Linked DNA regions of Homo sapiens. The protein of the gene in region 1 purifies or fractionates together with the protein of each later gene. This does not show direct contact. Each region holds a gene or a part of one and is shown on either strand. Other genes may lie near its edges. The genes, in order: EVA1B, PTPRK, DDR1 and SLC25A51.

Region 1 (6,320 bases):
CCTTCTCGCCAGCTCGGACCCCTCCCAGCTGGCCTCCCTGTCCGCTCAGAGGGACTCCTGCCCTCTCGCTTGAACGCACCTCGGCGCAGACGTGAAGTCCACCGTCCAGCCCAAGCACGCATGCTTACACCGGGGCTAGCAGCACCTTAGCCTCGAGGTCAGGGTCCTGAGGCCTGGTGTGTGTGTCATTGCAGTGTATGAACCCAGGGCACTGTGGGGACAGGGCGACGTGTGTCCAGGCGTTTGCCGGTAAGGAATGCGTTTTGAATAAGGAATGCGCGCGCGCTTGCTCTGTGTGTGAGGCTGGGTGCAGGCCTGTGGGCTTCTGCTTTTCTGCTGGCTGTGAAGTGAATGCGGGCAGGTGTGCTGTATCGTCGGGTTGGTGGGTGGGGGTGGTGCAGCTAGGGTAAGGGAGTCAAGCTGGGCCTCAGTCCTGGGGCCCCTGCGTGGCAGGAGCCTGGGGGTCGCTGGGGGCAGGAGTAACAGAGGGAGAGACTGAGTCACTGAGAATGCAGCTTTCTTTCATTTGGTCACTTCACCTCTTCATCGACCCCAGAGAGGGAGTGGGGACCCTGCATGCTGCCCCCTCCCCGCCCCCGGGGTCTTCTGGCAGGACTGGGGAAGGGAGCCTCTCAGGGGGTGGCGGTCCACGCCCAGTAGCACCTGGGAGCTGTGGGGGCCGAGGCAGTCCGAAGGTGTGGGGTAGCTCTGAGCTCATGTGCAGGTCCGGTACCCCGAGCGCCTTGCAGCGGGAGCCGGGGCCCATCAGTAATAGTGCATGCGGCCCAGGGTGCCCGTGGCCGTGGGGCTGGGCCCCAGCGTGCCTGTGCCCAGCAGGTCCGGCTGCCCGGTGCGCCAGATCTCCCGCAGGATCCGTTCGCGCTCCTCCAGCCGCTGCGCCCGCTCCAGCTCCTCCGCCGACGTGAAGACGTTGACGTTGAGGGGCCCGTCCGGCTCTGCGGACAGCTCGGGGCCCGGCAGCGTGTCGTCGGGGCCCAGCCGAGTCACCGTGTCCTCCTCGTCCTCGTCGTCGTCCTCGGGCTCCAGGGTGCTGCTGCGGGGGTCCCGGCGCTGAGCCGGGCCCCGGGGCCGCGGGCGGGGCGCCCACGAGATGCTGATGACGAGCAGGCAGAGGGTGAGCAGCAGGCCGAAGCAGACGCCCAGCACGAAGTAGAGGCCGAAGCTCTCGGGGTTGGCTGCGGGGCACAGGGCGGGGGTCACGGAGAGGCCCGGACGGGTGGGGGTTGTCCCACTTCCGAAAGACCCCAGGTTCTAGGTGTGGGGGCGAGGCCTGTAACCCCTACTCGAAGGGCATTAGGGAACCGCCAGCGGGCAAGAGGGCGGGGAGCGGGGCGGAGGGGACGGACAAGGCGCTGGGGAGGGAAGGGGATGGTGGTCAGGGAAGGGTTCAGGCCCCCAGTCTTCCGGCGCCCGCCCTCACCGCGGATGTGCGCGTAGGCAGCCAGGCTGTTGCTGAGCAACTCCATGTCCCTTCGCGGGGCATCCATGCTGCTCTGGGGGGCAGCTCCCCTACCAGCCTGCGAGGTCAGCAAAGTCAGATCCTTCTCCCAGCCTGGAGCCCACCCCGACCCCTTCCGCGGGCAGCTCCTCTCCCGGGAGCCGCGGGCCCAGGTTCCACCCTGGAGAGAGCGCTTCCCTAACTTCGTGGCGGCCCGGGGCCCTGTCGGGGGGAACCCCTCTCCCGGGCGCGGACGCCCCTCCAGTCCTGGGAGCAGCGCCGGGGACCGCGGGAGGCCCCGCCCCCTGGTGAGGTCCCCAGCTGAGGCCCGGTTCCGCCGTCCCGGGGCGGGATGGAGGATAGGGACGCTGAGCCTCCACGCCCCAGGCGGGCTCCGGGAAGGGAAGCTGCCTCTCTCCTCGCCCGGCCGCCCCGCGGGGACCCACCGGCCCGGGGCCAGGCCCACTCACCGTCAGCGCCCCGCTTCCCGGCTGCCCGGCCCCAGCGCGTCCCGCGGCCGCATACACTGGGTCCGGCCGCCCCCGCCCGCTCGGGTCCCGCCGCCCCTCCGGCCCCGCTGGGCTCCCAGGCCGCGGCAGCACGGGCGGGACACGGACCGAGGGACCAGCCGGCGGAAAGTTTCCTCCGAGGAAAGAGGAGGGACGGGGCGGGGCGGGGCGGGCGGGGAGGCGGGGAGGAAAAGGGCTGGGAGAGGAAGGGGAGAGGAGCGGGCAGCCGGGAGGAGGGAGAGCCCGGCCCGCGGGCCGTCCGTCCCCCACAGGAAACCGCCGGGGAGGCCGCGGCAGGGACCCGCCCCCAGGCCACTAACAGCAACAACAGAGAGGCTGGAGCTCTGCCTGCGTGCGGGCCAAGGGCTAAACCTTGGACAGGTTCTTTCACTTACTCCGCCTGACAACCCTGCGACGTGATACCATTATCCCCACTTCGCAGATCAAATAAACGGAGTCTTGGAGAGATTGAATTGACTTTACCAAAACCGTCAGGATTTGAATCTGCTGCTCTCTGATCCTAAAGCCTGAGCTAGAAACCACCGCTCCCCCTCCTAGGAGGCCCCTTCCAGGCAAAGCTGCTTCTCTTCCCCAGACCCATGCTGGACTGGAAGGGAGGGGACTGTCCACCCCTCCTTCCAGGGCCCAGGCTTGAATGTGTCCCCTGGCCGAGCTCTGGTCTAGTCACGCAGGGTTAATGATTGTTGGACTCCAGCTTTGAGCCAGGGCCCGGCCAGCAGTCTCGCAGACCCCAGCGTGGGGCCTCTGTGCCTGCGAGCTCCTGCGCTCTTGTGCACCAAGCAGCTTGTGGCGGCTTGTGGCAGATCCCACCCCATCCCGTCCCCCACCCCAAGGCTAAACCTGCCTGTGCTCACACACGCATTTCCCACCTGGGCTTGTGCATGCAATGTGGTGTGTGATCAGTGTGTGTGGCGGGGGGCTTCCTTCTGCCCTGTCTCCACGGGGCCCCCCCATCATGGACCTCCCCTCCCTTGCTGGAGCTAGAATGAGGGGGAGGCCGCCTTGGCGGGAGCCTTAGAGAGGAGGAGGAAAGGGGGAGAGGAAATTGCAGACATAGCTGAAGGCGCTGCCTGAGGCCTGTGGGCCAGCGACCCTCTCCCTGTCCGGGCTGCAGACCCCTACTCCCCCAGTCCCGAGACTGGGTTCAAGTAGAGGGCAGATCTAGATGGGGGAGGACTAGGACTGACTCCTATGGGGATGGAAAAGGGACTCCTGGGTGTCTTTGTGACTGTTTAGTGTGTTCTGTGAATGTGCGGGCAGGTATTTTTGCCCACATCTGTATATTTGTCTATTAATGTGATGTATTTGAGTATTGTTGTGGGGGCGGGTATGTCTGTATATAAATCTGTGCAGCCACTAGTCAACAAATACTGTGTATGCCTAGCACTTCCTAGTCTAGTCCACAGCATCTGTGGGTTTAACCAACTTTGCATCAAAAATATTCAAAACCAAAATTGCATCTGTGCTGAACATGTACAGACTTTTTTTCTTATCATTATTTCCTAAACAATAGATATATTTAATTTTTTTTCTTTGAGACAGGGTCTCACTCTGTCACCCAGGCTGGAGTACAGAGGTGCTATCTCAGCTCATTCACAACCTTTACCTCCTGGGCTCAAGTGAGCCTCCCATCTCATTCTCCCAAGTAGCTGGGAGGGACCACAGGCGTGCACCACCATGCCTGGCTAATTTTTGTAGAGATGGGGTTTTGCCATGTTGCCCAGGCTGGTCTTGAACTCCTGGGCTCAAGTGATCCACCCACCTCAGCCTCCCAAAGTGCTGGGATTACAAGTGTGAGCCATCATGCCGGCCAATAGTGTATTTTCATAGCGGTTACATTATATTAGATATTATAAGTAATCAAGAGATGATTTAAAGTATACAGGAGGATGTGTATAGGTTAAATGCAAATACTGAACCAATTTATTTTACATCAAGGACTTGAGGATCCTTGGATTTTGGTGTCTATGGGAGGGAGGTCATGGAGCCAATCCCCTGAGAATACTGAGGGACAGTTTTTTTTTTGTTGTTTGTTTTTGTTTTTGAGACGGAGTCTCGCTCTGTCACCCAGGCTGGAGTGCAGTGGCGCGATCTCGGCTCACTGCAAGCTCTGCCTCCCAGGTTCATGCCATTCTCCTGCCTCAGCTTCCCAAGTAGCTGGGACTACAGGCGCCTGCCACCACGCCTGGCTAATTTTTTGTATTTTTAGTAGAGACCGGGTTTCACCATGTTAGCCAGGATGGTCTCGATCTGCTGACCTCGTGATCCACCTGCCTTGACCTCCCAAAGTGCAGGGATTACGGGCGTGAGCCACCGCGCCCAGCCCTGAGGAATAGTTTTAATGGGGATTTAACAATAAACAGAACAGACACAAATCCTTGCCCTCATGGAGCTGACACTAAATTGGAGAAACAATAGAAGATAATCTCAGATGCTTCTAAGTGCTGGGGGGCATGACAGGATAGGGTAATGCGATGGACAACACCTGGGAGTGGCTCTCACAGGGACATCCACAGTGAGACCTGAATCCTAAGGAGGAGGCAGCTGTGCCAGGATCTGGGGAGAGTGTCTGGGCAGGAGTAAGAACATGCTTGGGATACCTCCCTCCAAGGGAAGAAAGCCACGCAGATGGTGTGTGGGTGCAGGGGAGAGTGGCAGGGGCTGCCCGTGCAGGGACTCGATGGCCTTGTTGATGAGCTTTTTCTTTCTTTCTTTCTTTTTTTTTTTTTTGAGACGGAGTTTCACTCTTGTTGCCCAGGCTGGAGTACAAAGGCGCGATCTCTGCTCACTGCAACCTCTGTCTCCCGGATTCGAGTGATTCTCCTGCCTCAGCCTCCCGAGTAGCTGGGATTACAGGCATGCACAACCACACCCTGCTAATTTTGTATTTTTAGTAGAGATGGGGTTTCTCCATGTTGGTCAGGCTGGTCTCGAACTTCTGACCTCAGGTGATCTGCCCACCTTGGCCTCCAAAGTGCTGGAATTACAGGTGTGAGCCACCGTGCCCGGCCAGGAGCTTGGTTTTTAATGTAAGTGTGGTGGGGAGCTCCTGGAGCGTTGAGCAGGGGAGTGTCATGGCCCTGTGACACATTTTGGAAAGATCCCTGTGGTGGCTCAGTGTAGGGTGGGCCACTGTGGGCAAGAAGGGGAGCAGGGAGGGTGGTGAGTAGGCTGGCAGCTGTCCAAGCCAGTGAGGGCGGGGCCGGTGGAGAGGCGAGAGGGCTCAGACTCAGGTGGTGTTCTGAAGGGAGTTCCTGCACTGGACTTGAATGTGAGGGAGAGAGGAGTTTAGAACACTTTCATACTGGGCTGGGGCACCTGAGGAAAGCCCATGTGGGGAAGCAGGTTTGGGGGTAGTCAGTTTCACTGTAGATAGGTTAGACTTGAAATGTCCATTAGATATCCAGGTGCAGGTGTTGGCAATGCAAGTAGAACCCCCAGGAATCTGGCTGAAAATGATATTTGAGAGTCCTTACCACATAAGATGGATTTACCACCCCAGAAGTGGATGAGACCGAACATCTGGGGTAAGGGGGCAGAGAGAGAAGGGTCTGAAGCTCGAGCCCATTGAGGGGTCTCCTGGAGGTGAAGTCAGCAAGGAGAACCAGGCCAGAACAGGGATGTGATCAGCCATGTGTGATTGGGCTGAGAGGTGAAGATGAGGCCAGAATTTGCCCACTGCCTTGGCCGAGATTTGAAGACCATCAGCAATATTGAGTTTCTGTGGGTTGTATTCCTGTTTCTTCAAGGGGTGTATGTCAGTGACTGTTTGCACAGGTAGCTTATTTATGTGCAGCATTGCTGGGAGTGCATGAGCATGTTTAATGCCTGCCATCCACGGGAATATCGGTGTGTGCTACAGTGTGCTTGTATGACTACGTGTGTTGTGTGCCTCAGTGCCTCAGTTCATGTGGCACAGACCTGTGTCTGTGAGAGTCCACATGTGTGCTCCTCTATGTGCAGTCTAAAATTTTGGATCTGTTTCTGTCAAGCTGTTTCCATGCACCTCTGTGCTACGCAGCTCTCTGTATCTCTGCCTGCAGGCAAAAGTATGTTTGTGTCTGGGTTGGTATGTGACATATGTGTTTGGAGTGGGTCAGGTATGACTCAGCCCTAGTGGAGCAGGATGAGGGTTGAGATGATGGTTGCTGGTTGCTTCAGAGAGAGGGACGCACATTAACCAGAGTGCTGTCTTCTCCAGGGGCTTGCCGTGGCCAAGCCAGGCCAGGTGGGAGAAGCGGCAGCCTTGCCCTGGAGGGTTTTGAGAAGCACTGCTCCTGGAGGCCCTGGGGAAGGTCCCTGAAACCTTTGGCCAATGTGGCTGTCCCCAT
Region 2 (7,030 bases), on another chromosome or scaffold:
AGTGTGAGAATGAACTAATACAATGAGAAAAGTTAGAAGAAAGGAAGCTCTTCTTCCAATCAAATGTCTGCTCCATGCAAAGGTAAGTCAAAGCAGACTGACGGCTATCTACTCATTTTTTGAGCCACAGGGGAGGGGATATGCATGAGGAGGAGCTGATAAGAGAGGAGAAGACTGAAGACTTCCTATTCTTTTTCCCTCTAAATGCAGGAACATATGTAAGGCTTTGAAATTACAGAATTCTTGGCCCTAGCTCCTAATCCCTCATAGACCTGGCAAAAGGGTACTAATGATGGGGATAAAGGGTAGGGAGAAAGAAGTGAACAATAAACCCTGTTCTTGTAAATCAAACCAGCTTTACTTCTCCAACGGTTCATTTGCACTACTAAATCCCCAGAACAGCTTTAACTATGAAATGTCTTTTTTTTGAATCACAGGGGATTAAGCAGACAGTAAGAGCAGGTGGATTACAAGCTTCAACTTTCATACAGAAAAAAAGACAAGCTTGGACAAGAAAGCAAGACCCCATCTTTACAAAAAATAATAAAAAAAAAATTAGCTGGGCATGATGGCATACACCTTAGTTCTAGCTACTTGGTAGGCTGAGGTGGGAGGACCACTTGAGCCCAGGAGATTGAGGCTGCAGTCATCTGTGATCATGCACGACACTCCAGCCTGTGCTACAGAGTGAGAGCTTGTCTCAAAAAGAAAAAGAAAAAAGAAAAGAAAAGGAGACAATCTGGACATTGAGAAAAATTTGACAAAGATGCCAATGGCAAAAAATTCAAAGGCATCAATGCTTTTCTAAATATTATTATTTTCTCCTTTTCTTGTTCACACATCCTTTTTTTATTCCATATTTAGATGCAGAAATGAAAAAGTATTGTATGCCATCTCTCTATTTAGTATATTTGCCTTTCCAGACACCTAATATAAAAAGAAAAGGTATAATTAGGATTTAATGTGATTTCAGTGGATGTGATTAATGGCCAGGCAAGACTCCGATCACAGCAAGGATGAGAGCTTTTCACAGGCAAGAGTGACCACAGCAAGGACGAGAGCCTGCCTTTAGACTATTCCGCTTTGCAGCACCAAAAAGAGTAAAGTAACTGGTGAAGACTACTCGTAGAAACAGAATGTGGGCTTAACAGGAACAATAACTTAGAAAGCCTGTTATAGTCAGAAAGAAATGAACCGTGGCTTCTAATTTCTCCTTGATATGGTTTCATAGGAGAAAGGGCAAAAGCTAGAAATGAAGGCAGTAAACTGTTTAAAAAGATTATAAACCATGATAGCTTTCTTGCTTCTTTCCAACATAATCAAAGTAAAGTGGCCAAAGTCATAATTTAAAACTTTCTTTCCTTGGGAGGCCAAGGTGGGCGGATCATGAGGTCAGGAGTTTGAGACCAGCCTGGCCAATGTGGTGAAATCTCATCTCTACTAAAAATACAAAAAAGGCCCGGCACGGTGGCTTACGCCTGTAATCCCAGTACTTTGGGGGGCCGAGGCAGGTGGATCACCTGAGGTCAGGAGTTCAATACCAATCTGACCAACATGGTGAAACCCCATCTCTACTAAATACAAAAAATTAGCCGTGCATGGTGGTGCATGCCTGTAGTCCCAGCTACTTGGGAGGCAAAGGCAGGAGAATCGCTTGAACCTGGGAAGCAGAGGTTGCAGTGAGCCGAGATTGTGCCATTGCACTCCAGCCTGGGCAACAAGAGCGAAACTCTGTCTCAAAAACAAAAACAACAACAAACAAACAAAATAAGCGGGGTGTGGTAGAGCACGCTCCTGTATTCCAAGTTACTCAAGAGTCTGAGGCAGGAGAATTGCTTGAACCTGGGAGGCGGAGGTTGCAGTGAGCTGAGATCATGCCACTGCACTCCAGCCTGGGCGACAGAGTGAGACTCTGTCTAAAAAAAAAAAAACCAAAAACTAAAACAGAAAACTTTCTTTCCATATTGTTCTGTCTATGGGCTATATAACACCCTGCAATTTAAGATTTTAGAATGGGGCAAGATTGTTCTTTCATTATGATGGATGTGTTAACATAATACCATCCATCCCCTCTCTAGTTACTTATAATAGTCCTTATTGATTAATGGCCAACAAATTAATTGTAAATTATTGAAACATTAAATGTCAGAAATAAAAATTTCCCAAATTAACATGATTTTTGTAGGATTTGGCATTCTGTGATTTAAAAAATTCATTTCTAATTATATTCAAAATAGATAAGGCATGATTTTCTTTTCTGAAAATAATTAAGATGAAATTTATAACTTGCAATATTTACTACATGAATATAATAATTGACAATCAAGCTCCAAATCTACAATAAAGCTATAAAAATGACAGTTCTTAAGAATCTCTATAGGGAAAACCTAAAATCATTTTCCAAAAAAATGTGTTTCAATAAAAGTTTCCACTTTTCCTTTTTAGGTTATTTTAATTTCCTCGAAAAGAAAACTAGCCAGTGTTCAGTTGCATTATGTAGCTTTCCACAACACTCTACACTAACAAAGAGGGCAGTCTCTTACGTCCATAAGAGCAGCATTGATGTAGTTACTGCTCTCCCCATCAATTGTAATTAAAAAAGGCAGACATCTGTCAGGTGGCAGCATGTCCATGAAACGGTTCTTGTCATGGTTCCTTGGCAGGCACGCTATACTGCAGTCTTCAGCTTGTAGTCGAGGGGTGACTGAATTCAGAGTCTAAAAAGAAAAGAGAACCCAGGTTAAAAGACAGTGTGACCCATTTAACAGTATAACACAGATCCATCAGGAATTTAGAAGGCCAAGTAGAAAGTGAAGGATTTGTGCGAGGCAATGGCATTTGCTACTATGACAGGCTGATAGACCTTGTAGTTAAAGCTAATGAAGCCTGAGAAGTGACAAAGAAACAAGACACACATTGTTCAGGGCTCCTCTTCTTAAAAGGAAAAGGTACGCTAAACAACACTGCTACCTGCAAAATGCATTGCCTTAACCAAAGAAAATGCAATCGGGCAGTCCATTATGATAATGACCCTTCATCACACTGGGAAACGGTATCATTTGTAGTAACATCTGGGCTTGCCATATTTGAAGATAAGCTATGGCATGTTGGAAAGAGCACTGGATCAACAATCAAAGAATTTGGTCTCTGCCCTTGATTTTATTTTCACCCACCTTCAGGGGTGTTTTAAGGGCAGTGAAAACATTTAGGGCTATTTTGAAATAACATGTACTACAAACTTCATTTATTATTATTATTACTATTATTATTTTTGAGACAGGGTCTTACTCTGTTGCCCAGGTTGGAGTGCAGTGGCAATATCTTGGCTCACCACAGCCTTCCAGGGTTAAGCAAACTTCCAGGGTCAAGCAATCCTCCCATCTCAACCTCCTGAGTAGCTGGGACTACAGGCATGCACCACCACACCCGGCTATTTTTTATATTTTTTGTAGAGATGAGGTTTTGCCATGTTGGCCAGGCTGGTCTTGAACTGCTGACCTCAAGATCTGCCTGCCTTGGCATCCCAAAGTGCTAGGATTATAGGTGTGAGCTGCCACTGAACCCAGACTCAGTTATAATTAATGTGCTTGATCTCATCACATTGTGAGTGACCCAGGTCAAAATCTGTATGACTGCATGAAAAAAAGGCTATAAATACACACTAAATACACACAAATCACCACTCATTTTGACTTGTTATTATTTCTTTTTTTTTTCTGAGACGGAGTCTCGCTCTGTTGCCCATGCTGGAGTGCAGTGGTGCAATCTCGGCTCACTGCAAGCTCCGCCTGCCAGGTTCACGCCATTCTCCTGCCTCAGCCTCCCGAGTAGCTGGGACTACAGGCACCCGCCACCATGCCTGGCTAATTTTTTTTGTCTTTTTAGTAGAGACGGGGTTTCACCGTGTTAGCCAGGATGGTCTCGATCTCCTGACCTCGTGATCCACCCGCCTCGGCCTCCCAAAGTGCTGGGATTGCAGGCATGAGCCACTGCGCCTGGCCTAATTTTTGACTTTTATGATACCTTTCCCCTTTGCTCTTCCCTAAGTCTGAACTTATTTGTCATTTTGGATATAGTAGATATAAATTCATCAATAGAAAAGTGACTATATAATATGTATAATGAAAGAGATACGTATTGTATTTAAAACAGGATCAAAGGTTATAAATTTGACTTGAAAGACCTTCCTTGAAAGGATTCCTAGCGCCCAGAACAAATTGTAGTAAGTCACAAAAGAGGTTTTAGAAATAGTTAATACCTGAAATTCATCCTTGAGATGTGAAGAGTTAGTCTGGGAGTCTATTCTAATCATATCAAAATATGCAGCTTTAAATTCACAGACAGGTATGGCAGTTTCTCCACATAAGCAGGCTTCTAAAATGGCATCATGAATAAAAATGTACTGTTCCTACCAAAAGAATGAAAAAGAAAATTTTGTACTAGTTTTAGTATCACTTTTCTGTCATCAAAGTTAGGAAATACAGAAAATTTTCTCTATATGGAAATATGAATTAAAACACCAATATTTTTCTATATGACTCAGCTAATATTGATTACACATGAAAAACATCTCTTTCGGTTGAGTAGAGTATATATGAGAGACATCTACTCTTTGTTTGCAAAAAAAATAAAAAATAAAAAAAAGTCCACTACAGGTAAATCTACATACCTCTGTCTGGACCATATTAATACGCCGAGATCTTAAGGCTTTGACACAATTGTAAATATCAACAACACCCTCTCTTTCAGCCATGTCTAGCATGATGTCAATCACAATGTAGCAGCCAGTTCGTCCAGCACCAGCACTGAAAAACAATTAAATTTAATGAATTGTAAGAAGCATGTTAGTCTTCATAACCTTAAATAAGGACTTTTTCCACTGTCAGATAGGTAGAATCAAATTGATTTAACAAACTGCAAGGCACAGCACTTGTCCCTGCTGTGTAAAAGCTTATTAATGTACAAATAGCTTCATGCAGAGTATCTGCTTTGGTATAAACTAAAGATTGGAACAAGAGTTCTAAATTATTTTCAAATTGAAAATAACACTGTTTAAGTTCCACACCTCTCTCACAATTTTCATTTTATGTAAATTTAATACACATAATTTCAAGTTCATAGAATTGATCAAGTGGCAGATTCACGCTTCAAAATTTAACTCAAGATTGAATATTTTTAGATTCATCTAGTTGTGTGTCCTCTGGCAACAATGTGAGAATGTTGGCTCACTCACTGTCTTCACCTCTTGTAAATACCAAGGCAAAAGAAAATTAATTCCCAAAACTTTAAACGGGAAATCTGAGGAGCCACGCTTCACAGGAAATGCAAATGGTGGGGGTGGGCAAGAGAATGACGGTTATCAAAGGGGAGGAGAGTAACAGTGTAAAGACTATTTGAATCATGATCTGAAGAGAAATGAAAATGAATTATTAGGTGTAGAATATGATTCCCAGCAAATCAAAAGGCTAGCCGCTATCTTACTGTATTTAATTCTAAAGTTAATTTTTAAAAATACTTTTAAAAAATTATATTTTAGTCTTTAATTGGCAAATAATAATGTATATATTCTTGGGTACATAGTGATATTTTAATACACATAATGTAGAGTGATCAGAAAAGGGTGATTGGCATATGCGTCCTCTCAAACATGTATCATTTATGTTGTGAACATTCAGTATCTTCCTTCTAGCTCTCTCAAACTAAACATTATCATTTACCAGACTCATCCTACAGTGGTACAGAACACTAAAATGTATTCCTCTATCTCACCATATTTTGTGTCCTTTAATTGTAATATACTGTGATTATTTTGCAGCTGGGGAATGTTTCTCCAATTTTATATATAGAAGTCAATGGGGAAAACAAAATAAGGATTTTTTGCGGGGAGTGGGGAATTCACTTTGTAGTCCAGAGATGCTTCAGTGTAGGTGGAAAATGACACTTCTGTTTCAAGAGAGTATCTGAGAATCTTGGAGCATTTCTGAAGCAAGCAATTCATAAGAAAGTAAACCTCTCTGATAAATCAAGAAATTCTTAAGTTGAAAACCTATTTATCTCATTTTCTAAGTGCTTAGATAGGCTAGTAACATTATTTCCTTGTTATTCAGATTTGGTCACTTCTCTTAAACTCACTGTTCTTTTAGAAATTTAAGCAAAAGATATTGTGGCTATCTCTATTTATCTTTGTCCCCTACCATCTTCTCAATCACTGTTCCCAGAGTTGGAGACAGGAATGTAATTTAAGAGTACATCAGATTTCATGAGGAGGATTGAAAGGAAGTTTTTTTTGTTTTCAGGGTACATAGTATCTGATCCTATGGGACGTTTTACCTTTACTTCATTCTCTGCTTTTTTTCCCCTCTTTTATACATGGTTATTTAAATCCTGAATAGGTTGGATTTTCAGAAAGCAAAAAATGCTTAGGTACAACCTATTATGTAGCTTGGAGGGAAGAGCGTATGAGAATGGTGTGCAGCATCATTTAGGAAACGCTTTTCAGATTCAGTACTTATTTTTCTGGTCACACCTCAAAATGAGGCCATGTAATTTGCTTTTAGTATCTCTAAATGCTTGTTTTAAGAGAAGTTTCTAATCAGAAGAAAGTCTGGATATAATGCTCGTGTTTTTTGGCATATATTTGCTGAATCTCACTGATGCAGTTTTCAAGGTCCTCTAATGTGAATTCTTTAAAAAAAATTTTTAAATAGCTGTTTTGCAGCACAAATCCTTGCAATTTAGGCCATTTAGTAACTCTGTATGTCTGAAATTTAGTTTTAAAGCTGGAATTCTATTGGGAATTTTCTAGATTGGCAAGAAATGTCTATTTCAACCTAGCATTCTATACAATATGGGATTTGCAAAAGTGATAAAAACAAAAAACACAGATGTTGCCATTAAAAGGCAGAGTTTCTATACTTTAAATTGTGGATAACACTACACGCATTAGGATGAATGTATGTATTTCTTAAGTTCCTGTTTTATAGACTACTTACAGCCAACTTTTATTTTATTGCTGTTTTACTTTATCTAT
Region 3 (6,168 bases), on another chromosome or scaffold:
TAATTTTTGTATCTTTAGTAGAGATGGGGTTTTGCTATGTTGGCCAGGTTGGTCTCGAACTCCTGGCCTCAAGTGATCTACCCACCTCAGCCTCCCAAAGTGCTGGGATTACAGGGGTGAGCCACTATGCCTGGTCCATTTTATAGGTTTTAAAACCTAATTCTGAGGAGGACTCAGTAGACCTCTACAGACTGCCAAAGGCGTTTATGGCACAAAAAAGGTTCAGCACCCCTGGCCTGACTGCATTCCTTCCAGGCCTCCACCAGAGCACCCCTCTGAGTTGAGAAGGTTCATGCACTCAGACATTCATGCATCTCCTGAGGTCCCACAGGCAAAGGCCTGGATTATCCAGAAACAGAACACAATGCTGGGCAAAACAGGTGATGGGAAATGGAATGAGGAGGCAGGAAAAAAGGAAGATGGGAAGTGGGTTGGGAAGTGGGTTCAGAGGGAGGTGCAGGAGGCAGAGTTACCAAATTCCCAAGGAACCCACTCACACAGTTGTGGAAAACTCAACCTTTATTATTACCTGCCTAGTGCAGGGGATTAAAATTGCCTCAAGCTAGGTCCATATATTAGTGTAAAAATCTGTGTCTCTCCCCCCAAAAATGTACAAACCCCAAGTGATTATAGAAAAATCAATGTGGCAGCTACACTAGAGATGTCCAACCCCAAGGCTATGGGCCGTTGCTCCCTCTTTCCCCCCAATCCCAATATTTACTCCACAGAAACGTATAGGCTTAGAGAAGTTCTAGCTACAAGACTGCAAGTGGGAAGTGGGGGTGACTGAGGGCTGGGGCGGGGCTACCCCCAGGTCCAGTGTTTCAGGTGATGGAGGAGGAAGAAGCCCAAGCTGAGGACAAGTACAGGAGCAGGCACAAGGAAACATTTTCCTCTCCTTCTTGTCCTCCTCACCCCCAGATTCTCAGCCAGTGGGGTCCAGTGTGTGACAGGGAGAGAGAAGCTGGGGGCGCAGCCACCTCTCCAGGAATCAGTGTTGTCCAGTGGGGCCCAGGTGCTCCAATGGGCCATGTCCAGTGTCTATCCTATATTTCTCCCCACCCTTCCCCAAGGGATGGCTAGAGGAGGGTGGAGAGGATCCCATCCACAGGACCAGCTGGGTGGGCGACAGGGGCTTCTAGGAAGGAAGAACAGGAAGGGGACATGAGAGTGTGTCCAGGAAGGGGAGAAGGGGCATCAGCTCCCTGGGTGGGCCCAGCCCACCTGCAGTCTCACTGCCTCTATTAGAGGTGATGGGCTGTCGGGAGGGGAAGGGCAGAGGTGCCATTGTGTCCTCTTGTTTTAGTGTCACTGGCTTCCCCTGGATCGCTCCCTGAGGGAGGGGCAGCTGGATGTGTGATTCACACCGTGTTGAGTGCATCCTCTGCCAGGAACCGATGCAGCTGGGAAAAGGGTGGTCGCTGCTCAGACTCCCGGCTCCAGCACCGAAGCATCAGCTCATATAGGCCCTGCGGGCAGGCAGGCGGCCGGGACAGGTACACCTGCATTGTGGCAGTGTGGATGAGAGTCAGGGAACAAATATTCTTTAGTCTCCAAGATGACAACTCTGCCCCTTCTGTCCCCCGCCTCGGACCCATCTTCCCTCTCCTCCACTCTGACCTGCCGGCCCTGGTCCCGGAAGAACTCCCCCGCGTTCTCGATGACCTGCTCGTCGGTGAGCTGCCCAAAGGGCTGGGCCCTACAGAGCATCAGCACCTCCCACAGGGTCACACCAAAGGCCCACACGTCACTCGCAGTCGTGAACTTCCCCTGGGATGCAGAGAAGGCAGCAAAAACAGACAGGGACATCAGGCAACGTAGACCCTCCTCCCTTCCTATTGGAAGCCCCAGATCCACTCTGGGCTCCACTCAGGCCTGATCCCTCCTGACGCCAGGCTCTCCACTCTCCTCCGCTGGCCACCTTTTCCAACTCCTCTCCCTTGGGCTCTGCCTTTCCTCTCCATGCTCTGGTCCTCTCTCCAGGGCCCTGGCCCACCTCTTCCTTCTGCTCCTCCTTCCTCTCCATCCACCCCCACTTTCTGGTCCTGACCTTCGGTCTCCCTACCCAACCCCTTCTATCTCCAGCTTCCTCGCCCAACCTCATCTCTTGAGCTCTCTGCCACCCTGTCTCCATCCCCAGTACCCACTCTTGGCTCCTGGATTCTTGCCCATCACACTGCAGCTCCTGCTTTCCCCAGTCCCTTGGGCTAGGAGAACCTCATATTATAGATGAGATTCTGTAAAATGCAACCCAGAGAAAGTGTGTGACTGATGGAGACCAGGGCTGTGAGTGGCGGCCAGTGTTCTCCCACCTGCCCTGCTCCAACCTGGCTGTCCTCGGGCTGCTCACCATGAGGATGCACTCCCAGGCCATCCAGCGGATGGGCAGCACTGCCCGGCCCTGCACACGGTAATAGTCCCCAGCATAGAGGTTCCGGCTCATGCCAAAGTCTGCGATTTTGATGGTGAAATTTTCCCCAACTAGGCAGTTCCGCGTGGCCAGGTCCCGATGTACAAAGTTGAGTGTGGCCAGATAGCGCATGCCGGAGGCGATCTGGGCTGCCACATGCAGCAGCATTGGGTAGCTGAGAAGGGAACCGACAGAAGGTCACTGGGGGCAGCTTCGCAGATTCCCATCCAGGAGAGGAGAGAGAGCCCACTCCCCGGGCCCGGTCACTCTGGCTCCCCATGTGGAGGTGGAATGCCCACGTGAGGCCAAGGGTCACTTCCCTCTCAATCTCCCAGGCCTGGCCAACACTAGGGGGCTCTTCTTTTATTGTGCTCCCCAATCTGGACTCAGAGGGGAGTGAGGGTGAGAGAAAGCAGAAGGGACGTCATGGCAGGGCCCAAGTCCCTTCACCACTCTTGCATAGTCACCTCCAGCCTTTCTGTCCATGTTCCTGGGTTAACTTGTCACACATTCCTTATCCCAGGCCCTCCTGGAACCTCTCTCCCTTCCCACCCCCACGCTCCCCTCTTTTCCTCCAGGCTGAAGCGAGGGGAGAGGAGGAGATCCCCTGGGGGAATTCTGAGCAAGGCCCAGCCTGGGTAAGCAGGTACCTGATGGTGGGCCCCTGCGCAGCCTGCCCGTCCCCAGGGGCCCCCTCGGCTGCCTTGTCCTCCAGCTGGTGGGCACTGAGGAACTGGTTGAGGTCGCCGTTCTCCATGTAGTCAGTAATCATGCAGAGGGGGTCGTCCTGCACACACACGCCCAGCAGCCGAATGATGTTTGGGTCCTTGAGCCTCGACATGATCTTCACCTCTTTCAGGAAATCATTCCTGGAGAACAAGGAGAAGCTGAAGAGGAATGCCGAGTGGGCGGCCTGCACCTTCCCCCGCGCCCCCACCCCCCTGCCCCACCTCAGGCAGACCAGGCGTCCCCACCCCCAGCGTACATGTAAATCCCCTCCCAGAGATGCCACCCCTCTGTTGGGCTCTGCCATTGTTCTCTCTAGATGGCTCCCCACTCTTCACGGCCTCCCCTCCCTTCTTCCAGATGCCATCCCTGGTCCTCACCTGGCATTCTTGGTGGCATCTGGCCGTAAGATCTTGACAGCTACCAGCAAAGGGTGTCCCTTACGCACATTAAGGGGGAAATCAAGACTAACCAGATCTTGAGGGCTGTCGACCTCACACAGGTGCACCTGGAGAAAGAAGTTCGTTTGCTAGGCGGTCACAGGGTCAAACGGATTAACACGGTTACAAATGACTAAGGTTCCTGGCTAGGGGGATGCGCAGGCATGGCATCAGAGCACACAATAGGGCCAGACACTGGGTAGGCACCCTCCTTACCTCCCCAAACTGGCCCTCGCCAAGCTTCTCCTTGAAGCGGAGTCGAGATCGAGGGAAATCCACTCTGGGGGGCCCATCCCCGACTGCCCCTGGGGGCAGTGCAGGCACAGCATAGGTGTTGCCCCCGGTGACGCCCTGCAGGGTAACAATGTCAGCCTCGGCATAATGGGGGACGCTGTTCTGGGGAGGTGGGGGCAGAAGCGGGGCGCCTGGCTTCTCAGGCTCCATATAGTCCCCACTGTAGGCTGCAGGGGTGAGGGGAAAGAAGACAGGACGAGGCATCAGGAACAGCCCAAGAGCTATAGTTCCCCACACCTCAGCCTCCCGGAGGGCCCTGTGTCTCCCGGTTGAGTGAGAGACTGGGTCTATGCTGTATCTTCCCAGTATTCCATGCGCCAACCTCAAACCAGGAAGACACTGGCATGGGACGAGAGTTAGCTATTCCAGAGCTTTTCAAGGCAATGAATATGGTTGAGCAAAACTGTCATAAAGTCTTACTCTTTTAGGGCCTCCCTAGGGTCTCTCAAGAGACTGTGAGATAAATCTTGGCTGGAAGAAGAATTCCTCCCCAGGAATTCTCCCGCCTCAGGATGGTCCCAGCATCCAGGCACCCTCCACCTTCCAAACCCTTGTCCCGTTCACCACAGCTCCCTCCCCTTCACTTAGCTGCTCTCCCGTGGCTTTCAGCCTGGCTCCCCCTGGGGCCAAGCCCTCCCAACCCTTTCAACCCAACACACCAAGCTCAACAACAAGCAGAGACAGAGGCACACAGAGAGGAGGGAGGGTAACAGCTGCTCACAGCCCCAACACAAGTTGTCTACAGACAGGAGAGGAAGCAGAGCTGTCCCCTCTTAGCCCTGGGGAAGGGGCCACAATGAGAAGGCAACACTGAGGAGAAGAGGGGCAGATGGAAAGGGTTGGGGCATGAGCCTTCACCTCTGGGACTGCAGAGAGAGGACACATGTGAGGGAAAGGGCAAGCGCCCGGGGTGAGAGCCCTCCTCCTCGCAGCTCTAGAGAGAGTGGAGAATAAAGGAGGAGTTACTATAGTCTGGGGCCACCACAGCAACCTCCTGTCTAGCTCTGGAGAGCTGAAGAGATGGCGTGGAAGAGGAGGAGGGAGAAGAGCTGGGGACCAGTAAGCTTTCTACTCCTCAGCTCAAGGGGGGGACCTTAAAAAAGAGCAAGCAGCAGCAGAGATGAGCTAAGGGCACAAGAGCTTCCTCCTTGGGAGCTCAGGAGAGCAGAATAGGCCACAGTGGGGAGAGGAGGAAGTGCAAGGTGTGAGGGCTTTTCCCTGCCCCAGTAGAGGTATGGGGAGCCTGGCGGAGCCCAGGGGCAGAGGGGCTTACCCTGGGTGTTGGTGGGTTTGGCCCAGGCGGGTGTGGGGGGGCCCGGGCCTCGAGGGGGACGGGCGTAAGTGGCCAGAAGGAGGCGGTAGGCTGGATTGGAGAGCAGCAACGCTGTCGGGAGAAGGAGGAGGGGAAACACGGGGAAGGGATGAGACTCAAGGCTAGACAGACAGGGAGACCTTGAATAGGGCAAGACCAGGGCTGATGGGATGATTGCATTAAGAGACAGACAGGATAAAACAAGGATCTGCAGAGTGACGGACGGCTGGCTGGATAATGAATGCATGGACAGATGGGACGTATGAATAGATGGATGGATGGTAAACAGATGTTTTGTTGGATGGATGGATAACAGATGGAAAGATGGATGTGTGAATATAGATGGATAGATGGATGATGGATATGGGTGGGTGGATGGATGGATGAATAGATTTATGAATATAGATAGAAAGACAGATGATGGAAGATTGATGGATGGATGCAAGGATGTATGACTATGGATGGAAGGATGGGTGATGGAGGATAGATGAAGGAACAAACATGGTGAGTCTAATACAAAGCAAAGGGGCCAGGGAGACACAATGAGAGGGTACAACAAAGATAGAGAGATGTCTGTGGGACACAGACAAGATAGCACCACGGGGGACTATGGGTAATACATGGGGAACTCTTGAGAGAGACTACATGGTAGGGACAAAGAGTGATATAGACAGTAACCAGGGGCACAGAAAGAAGAAAACAAGTGGAAACTGGGGAAGACAGGAAAAAAAGAGAATGGGAAAGGGATACAATAAGAAAACAGCAGAGAGGACAGAGGTGCGACTGGAACAAGGCAGGTCTTACCAGAGCCATTGGGGACACAGGGAGCGGAGTGGGGCGGATTCCCACGAGGCCGGGGCTCCTGGTACGGGGGTGGCTCTCTAGGACCTGGGCGGTTGTTGATGAGGATAGTGTCCCCAGGGACAGAGAGGTGAACCGTCAGCTCCTCTTCCAACACCCTCCGTTCAGCCTTGTCATAGGGATGG
Region 4 (7,030 bases), on another chromosome or scaffold:
TGTATACAATTTATTCTACCTCCTATTTATGGTTGCTGTTTTTTTTTATGGTTTTGTATTATTAAGGTTTGGAAAACTCTGTGGACAATTCAGCTTGCCAAGTGTGTGAGTGGGTATACAAAAGATATACATTTTTAATTCCAAGACCTTCCAGAGAGTGTCTAGAGGAAAGGTCTAATTAAACCTGCCCCCACTCACCTTTTTTTTTAACTTTTTTTTTTTTTTTGAGGCAGAGTCTTGCTTTGTTGCCCAGGCTGGAATGCAGTGGTGCGATCTCGGCTCACTGCAACCTCCACCTCCTGGGTTCAACTGATTCTCCTGCCTCAGCCTCCCGAGTAGCTGGGATTACAGGTGCCCGCCACCATGCCTGGCTAATTTTTCTATTTTTGTAGAGATGGGTTATCAACTTGTTGGCCAGGCTGGTCTTGAACTCCTGGGCTCAAGTGATCTGTCCGCCTTGGCCTCCCAAAGTGCAGGGATTACAGGTATGAGCCACTGGCCTGGCCTTTTACAAAAAATTTTAAGTTCTGAGGTACGTGTGCAGGTTTGTTATGTAAACTTGTGCCATGGGGTTTGTTGTACAGATTATTTCGCCACCCAGGTATTAAGCCTAGTACCCATTAGTTATCTTTCCTGATCCTCTCCCTCCTCCCACCCTCCACCCTCCTATGGGCCCCAGTGTGTGTTGTTCCTCTCTATGTGTCCATGAGTTCACATCATTTAGCTTCCACTTGTAAGTGAGAACATGTGGTATTTGGTTTTCTGTTCCTGAGTTAGTATGCTAAGAATAATGGCTTCCAGCTCCATCCATGTTCCAGCAAAGGGCACAATCTTGCTCTTTTTATGCCTGCATAGTATTCCATGGTGTATGTGTACCACGTCTTCTTTATCCCGTGTACTACTGATGGGCATTTAGGTTGATTCCATGTCTTTGCTACTGTGAATAGTGCTGCAGTGAACATGGCTGTGCATGTGTCCTTATAGTAGAACTATTCCTTTGGGTATTGTTTTTTTCTATTTCGCCTTTAAACAATGCAGCAATGGGCAACCTTGTACTTATACCATGTGAATTGTTTTGCCATTAAAAACTTTTTTTTTTTTGAGACAAGGTCTCATTCTGTTGCCCAGGCTACGATGCAGTGGCACAGTCATGGTTTACTGTAACCTCGAACTCCTAGGTTCAAATGACCCTCCTGCCTCAGCCTCCTGAGTAGCTGGAACTACAGGTATCCACCACCACATTCGGCTTTTTTTTTTTTTTTGTAGAGAAGGGGTCTTGTTATGTTAGCCAGGCTGGTCTCCAACCCCTAGCCTCAAGCGATCCTAATGCCTCAGCTTCCCAAAGTGCTGGGATTGTAAGGAGTGAGCCACCTTGCCTGCCATTTAAAATTTTTGAATATGATTCCCCATCTTTCATTTCTATTGACCACTTCTTTACTATACATTTTCATATATGTTGCCCATTTTTCTGCTGGCACTTTGGTTGTCTTACTGATTTGTAAAGTATCTTTTAGATATGAAGCAAATGAATCTATTTTAGTCAAATTGTGGCAAATAATTTTTCCATGTCTATATCATTTTTATACACTGAAGTTCTTAATTTGAATATTAAATATATCTCAACTTCTAGATTTCATGTTCTCCTAAGGTCTTCATTACTCCAAAATTATTAACAAGTAATCCAGGCTTCCTTCCACAACTTTTTTTTTTTTTTTGAGAGAGTCTCACTCTATCATCTAGGATAGAGCGCAGAGGCATGATCTCGGCTCACTGCAACCTCTGCCTTCCTGGTTCAAGTGATTCTCCTGCCTCAGCCTCCCAAGTAGCTGGGATGATAGGTGTGTGCTGCCATGCCCTGCTAATTTTTATATTTTTAGTAAAGACAAGGTTTTGCCACATTGGCCAGGCTGGTCTCAAACTCCTGGCCTCAAGTGACCTGCCTGCCTCGGCTTCCCAAAGTGCTCGGATTACAGGCCCTTCCATAATTTTTATGGTGAATTATCACGTATACTGTAATATCTCTGGAATATCAGTTTAAGAAGTGAGGCAAAGATAACAGACTGCCAACATCACTGATGACTGAACTTTGTTTCCATCAGTTGCAGCATAATCTAAATACCCACGGGCGTTTGCGTTTATTTCTGCACTCCATTCTTTTCCACAAAGAGCCTGGTATTTCTTCTCTAGTACTAACCTGTTTTAACCTATTGCAGCATCAAAATATAGTTCATCATCTAGTAGGGCTTCCCCCTCCAAAGATAATTATTACAGTTTTTCTAGCCCTCTCACTTTTCTCAGGTAAACTTCGGTGTACTCTTCCCCAAAATCCTGTTGGTGTTTTATGGTGGAAGATGTATCCACAGAATGAGGCATATATATTTAAAATAGGCTGGGTGGCCGGGCACAGTGGCTCACGCCGGTAGTCCCAGTATTTTGGGAGGCCGAGGTGGGTGGATCACTTGAAGTCAGGAGTTCGAGACCAGTCTGGCCAACATGGCGAAACTCCATCTCCACTAAAAATACAAAAATTAGCCAGGCGTGGTGGTGTGCACCTGTTGTCCCACCTACTCTGAAGGCTGAGGCAGGAGAATCACTTGAACCCAGGAGGCGGAGGTTGCAGTGAGCCGAGATTGCACCACTGCACTCCAGCCTGGGTGACAAGTGCGAAGCTCTGTCTCAATAAATAAATATTTAAGGTTCAGAACGGTATTAACTTTGAATTTTTAGTGGTATTTAGATGGAAAGAGTGAAAATTAAAGAGCATATGTATGTCCGGTACCTATGTCAGGGGAGATAAGACGTGCAAATTAATTAGACTATAGGGAGATAAGTGCAATCATAGAAGGTATCAAGGCCCCGTACAGCAGGAGGTCATTAACTAGCTGTCCAGAGGGAATGACAGACAGGACATGACAAGTCTATCTTAATTTTAAATACTGATCATCTTTTCAAAATTGAATCTTAACTTTACAAGAACTTGGTATCTTCCTATTTACTTATAACTTTTTGCAAACCTTAAAGCATTAAAATTTTCTTCACATAGATATTATTTCTTACATCTATGTATTTCACCTTTTTGGTTACTATTATATTTTAAATTTTTAAATTTTTTTTCTTTTTGAGATGGGGTTTCACTATGTTGCCCAGCCTGGTCTTCAACTTCTGGGCTCAAGTGATCCTCCTGCCTCAGCCTCCCAAAGTGCTGAGATTACAGACATGAGCCACTTTGCCCTGCCTGATTATTATTATTCATAGGCTATTTACTTCCATCAGTTTTCTAACTAGTTTTCGTTTGCATAAGAAAACAACTAACAATTCTTGGGTATTAAGGTTAGAACCAGCTAACTTACTGAATTCTTACTATGTCTCAGTTTTTTGGTGAACGTTTTAGTTTCCACCATGTAAAAGATCACTTGCAAAAAATTTTGCCTTCTCTTTTATAATATGTGTAATTCTTTCTTCTTATTGAACTGATAAATACTTCCTGAACAAAATTAAATTATAATAAAGGATTATAATAAATTATAATTATAATCCCTATATATAATTACATATATATATAATTATAGTTCTTATATTTTTCTTGACACCTGTGGGAACTCTCCTAGGGATTATCATTAAGTTGGCTTTCGGTTTTAAACAGGAAGTTCTTGTCATCTGAGTGTTCATAATCCAGGTCCTAGCAGTTTTCAAGTTTACACAGGGAAACAAATCATCAAGACACAGAAACGTTCACTGATCAGCTGAGTCATATATGATTTATTCCACTCAAGTATCCCTCCTCCCTATTTATCATCTACCCCTGCCCATCTGTAGGACTCTACTGTAAACATGAAGTGCAGGAGGCCTTCCTTCTGCTATCACATAATTTCATCTCACAAATCATGCCAAAAACCCCAAGACTTCAATCTATATTCATTCTAAGAATTAGTGGAGCTGCAATTATAACTTAAGCTCCTGCCCCCAACTATTAACTATGAAATTGTGCTTCCCATTAAAAATGGATTCCAGGCCAGGAGCAGTAGTTTACACCTGTAATCCCAGCACTCTGGGAGGCCGAAGCAGGCAGATCACTTGAGGTCAGAAGTTCAAGACCAACCTGGCCAACATGGCAAAACCCTATCTGTACTAAAAATACAAAAATTAGCCGGGGGTGGCCGGGTGCGGTGGCTCACGCCTGTAATCCCAGCACTTTGGGAGGCTGAGACGGGTGGATCACCTGAGGTCAGGAGTTCAAGACCAGCCTGACCAACATGGAGAAATCCTGTCTCTACTAAAAATACAAAATTAGCCAGGCGTGGTGGCGCATGCCTGTAATCCTAGCTATTCGGGAGGCTGAGGCAGGAGAATTGCTTGAACCTCGGAGGCGGAGGTTGCAGTGAGTTGAGATTATGCCATTGCACTCCAGCCTGGGCAACAAGAGTGAAACTCCATCTCAAAAAAAAAAAAAATTAGCCGGGCATGGTGGCATGCACCTGTCATCTCAGCTACTTGGGAGGCTGAGGCAGGAGAATTGCCGGAACCCAGGAGGCAAGGTTGCAGTGAGCCAAGATTGTACCACTGCACTGCAGCCTGGGCGACACAGCAAGACTCTGTCTCAAAAATAAATAAATAAATAAAATAAAAATGAATTTCATTTTTCTAGTCAACTGATAAGTCAAACTGAGAGAATTTTCAAACATGGGAAGGAAATATACATTTATTATTGTTGTACTGAAGTTCAATCACCTCCACACCTTCCCACCGCCAATAACTCAAGAGTCTATCTTAAACTTTGGTCAAATGCTTTTAGAAAGCTCCTGAGATGATCATACAAACACTGGAGACAGCCAGTGTAATATTTAAGAGTACAGCCTCTGGAACCTACTAATTACCTACTTAAATCCTAGCTCCACCACACATGTACTGTGTGACCTTTGACAAGTCACTCTATAGCTTATTCTCTTTATAAAACGTGGCTATTAACTACCTCATAGACTAGCTCAATTAACTGAGCTAACAACATGTAAAGTGCCCAGGACAGCAGTCTAGTGTACAGTAGGAACTCAACAAGGGCAAGCTATTTTATTATTCTTTTCTATCTTTTCTGACTTATTCATTTGGTGTATTATGTTAGCATATTTCTTGGTGATTACTCACTCTTGCAATATGTGGATAAATGCTACTTGGCCGTGGTGAAATATTCTTTCATCATACTGCTAACTTCCATTTACTAATATTTTAAAATTTCATATTACTGTTCATAACAGATCATGTTGTCATTTTTTTTTTCTTCTTTTACAAGACAGGGTCTCACTCTGTCACCCAGGCTGGAGTGCAGTGGTACAATCATGGCTCACTGCAGCCTCAAGCTCCTAGACTTAAGCAATTCTCCCAGCTGGGACCACACACGTGCGCCACCATGCCTGGCTAATTTTTCACTTTTTTGTAGAGACAGGGTCACTCTGTGTTGCCCAGGCTGGTCTGAAGCTCCTTGGCTCAAGCAATCCTCCTGCCTCAGCCTCCCAAAGTGTTGGGATTATGGGCATAAGCCTTGGCACTCAGATAAGTTTTCAGTTTTAATACTATCTTCACATCAAGTGCCAGTGTCAATGTTCCACTGGCTTTGTAAAAAGAATATGTGATTCCCCGCCCCCCCACCCCCATCATACTGTAGAACAATTTAAATCTTATCAAAATGATGTGTTCCTTGAAGTTTAATTGCATTCACCTGTGACATCTGAGCCTGGAGTTTGGCAGGATGATAGCTTTGTGATAATGTTCCCAATTTCTTCCATTGTTATTGTTCTGTTAGGTTCTCTCTTCTTGAGTCAATTTTGATAACTGGATTTCCTTAAAAAAAAAAAAATTCTGGTTTAATTTATATAGCCTTTTTTTTTTTTTTTTTTTTTTTTTTTTTTGTAGAGACAGGGTCTCACTATGTTGTCAACGGTGGTCTCAAACTCCTGGGCTCAAGTGTTCCTCCCACCCTGGCCTCCCAAAGTGTTGGGATGACAGGCATGAGCCACTGCTCCCAGCCTATTTTTATTTTTAAAGACAGGATCTTGGCCAGGTGTGGTGGCTCACGCCTGTAATCCCATCACTTTGGGAGGCCAAGGCAGGCGAATCATGAATGAGGTCAGGAAATCGAGACCATCCTGGCTAACACGGTGAAACCCCATCTCTACGAAAAATCCAAAATTTAGCCAGGCATCGTGGCACGCACCTGTAGTCCCAGCTACCTGGGAGGCTGAGGCAGGAGAATTGCTTGAACCCGGGAGGCAGAGGTTGCAGTAAACCAAGATCACAGCACTGCACTCCAGCCTGGGCGACACAGCAAGACTCTATCCAGAAAAAAAAAAAAAAATGACAGGGTCTTGTTCTGTCACCCAGACTGGAGTACGGTGGTACGATCATGGCTCACTGCAGCCTGGACCCCTGGGGCCTCAGTCTCCTGAGTAGCTAGGACCACAGGCGCATGCCACCATGCTTGGCTAACTTTTAAAAAACATTTTTTTAGCAGAGAGGGGGCCTTGCTATGTTGCCCAGGCTGGTCTTGAACTCCTGCCTTGGCCTCCCAAAGTGCTGGGATTTACAAGCCACTGCACCCATCCAACACTTGCTGTTTTAAAAAATTACTTCTAACCTGTGTACTTATGTTCCCTTTTTTCTTGAGCAGGGTTATCAGTTTATCTAATTTATAACCTTACCACTCCTAGCAAAGCAGCAGCTTGTGAATTACCAATCTTACTATTTCTCAGTTTTGTTTTGTTTTTTTGAGACAGAGTTTTGCTCTGTCACCTGGGCTGAATGCAGTGGCTACCTCGCAGTTCACTGCACTTACTGCAGCCTTGACCTCCTGGGCTCAAGCAATCCTTCCACCTCAGCCATCTGAGTACCTGGGACCACAGGCCCGCACCACCAAGCCCAGCTAATTTTTGTATGTTTTGTAGAGACAGGGTTTCTCTACGTTGCCCAGGCTGGTCTCAAACTCCTTGGGCTCACATCATCTGCCAGCCTTGGCCTCCCAAAGGGGACTACAGGCATCAGC

Evidence for each region.
Region 2: the proteins of EVA1B (region 1) and PTPRK purify together in Homo sapiens (co-immunoprecipitation; 2 studies listed by BioGRID and IntAct, with this or other methods). This does not show direct contact.
Region 3: the proteins of EVA1B (region 1) and DDR1 purify together in Homo sapiens (co-immunoprecipitation; 2 studies listed by BioGRID and IntAct, with this or other methods). This does not show direct contact.
Region 4: the proteins of EVA1B (region 1) and SLC25A51 purify together in Homo sapiens (co-immunoprecipitation; 2 studies listed by BioGRID and IntAct, with this or other methods). This does not show direct contact.

The regions. Positions count from the first base shown.
Region 1 is NC_000001.11:36,321,530-36,327,849, forward strand, and holds EVA1B (protein eva-1 homolog B), read right to left. Parts: upstream 2,117-6,320; 5' UTR 1,930-2,116; exon of another isoform or gene 1,539-1,929; 5' UTR 1,509-1,538; coding exon 1,442-1,508; exon of another isoform or gene 1,197-1,441; coding exon 766-1,196; 3' UTR 501-765; downstream 1-500. Other genes in the region: SH3D21 (SH3 domain-containing protein 21), read left to right, coding at 195-249, 6,191-6,320.
Region 2 is NC_000006.12:127,978,573-127,985,602, forward strand, and holds part of PTPRK (receptor-type tyrosine-protein phosphatase kappa isoform b precursor), read right to left. Parts: intron 4,806-7,030; coding exon 4,670-4,805; intron 4,409-4,669; coding exon 4,259-4,408; intron 2,718-4,258; coding exon 2,544-2,717; intron 1-2,543. UniProt on the Homo sapiens protein: Regulation of processes involving cell contact and adhesion such as growth control, tumor invasion, and metastasis. Negative regulator of EGFR signaling pathway. Forms complexes with beta-catenin and gamma-catenin/plakoglobin.
Region 3 is NC_000006.12:30,894,490-30,900,657, reverse strand, and holds the end of DDR1 (epithelial discoidin domain-containing receptor 1 isoform 2 precursor), read right to left. Parts: intron 6,153-6,168; coding exon 5,987-6,152; intron 5,255-5,986; coding exon 5,144-5,254; intron 4,038-5,143; coding exon 3,793-4,037; intron 3,645-3,792; coding exon 3,517-3,644; intron 3,298-3,516; coding exon of another isoform or gene 3,280-3,297; coding exon 3,061-3,279; intron 2,586-3,060; coding exon 2,351-2,585; intron 1,771-2,350; coding exon 1,621-1,770; intron 1,503-1,620; coding exon 1,362-1,502; 3' UTR 502-1,361; downstream 1-501. UniProt on the Homo sapiens protein: Tyrosine kinase that functions as a cell surface receptor for fibrillar collagen and regulates cell attachment to the extracellular matrix, remodeling of the extracellular matrix, cell migration, differentiation, survival and cell proliferation.
Region 4 is NC_000009.12:37,894,119-37,901,148, forward strand, and holds part of SLC25A51 (mitochondrial nicotinamide adenine dinucleotide transporter SLC25A51), read right to left. Parts: intron 5,833-7,030; 5' UTR 5,711-5,832; intron 1-5,710. UniProt on the Homo sapiens protein: Mitochondrial membrane carrier protein that mediates the import of NAD(+) into mitochondria. Mitochondrial NAD(+) is required for glycolysis and mitochondrial respiration.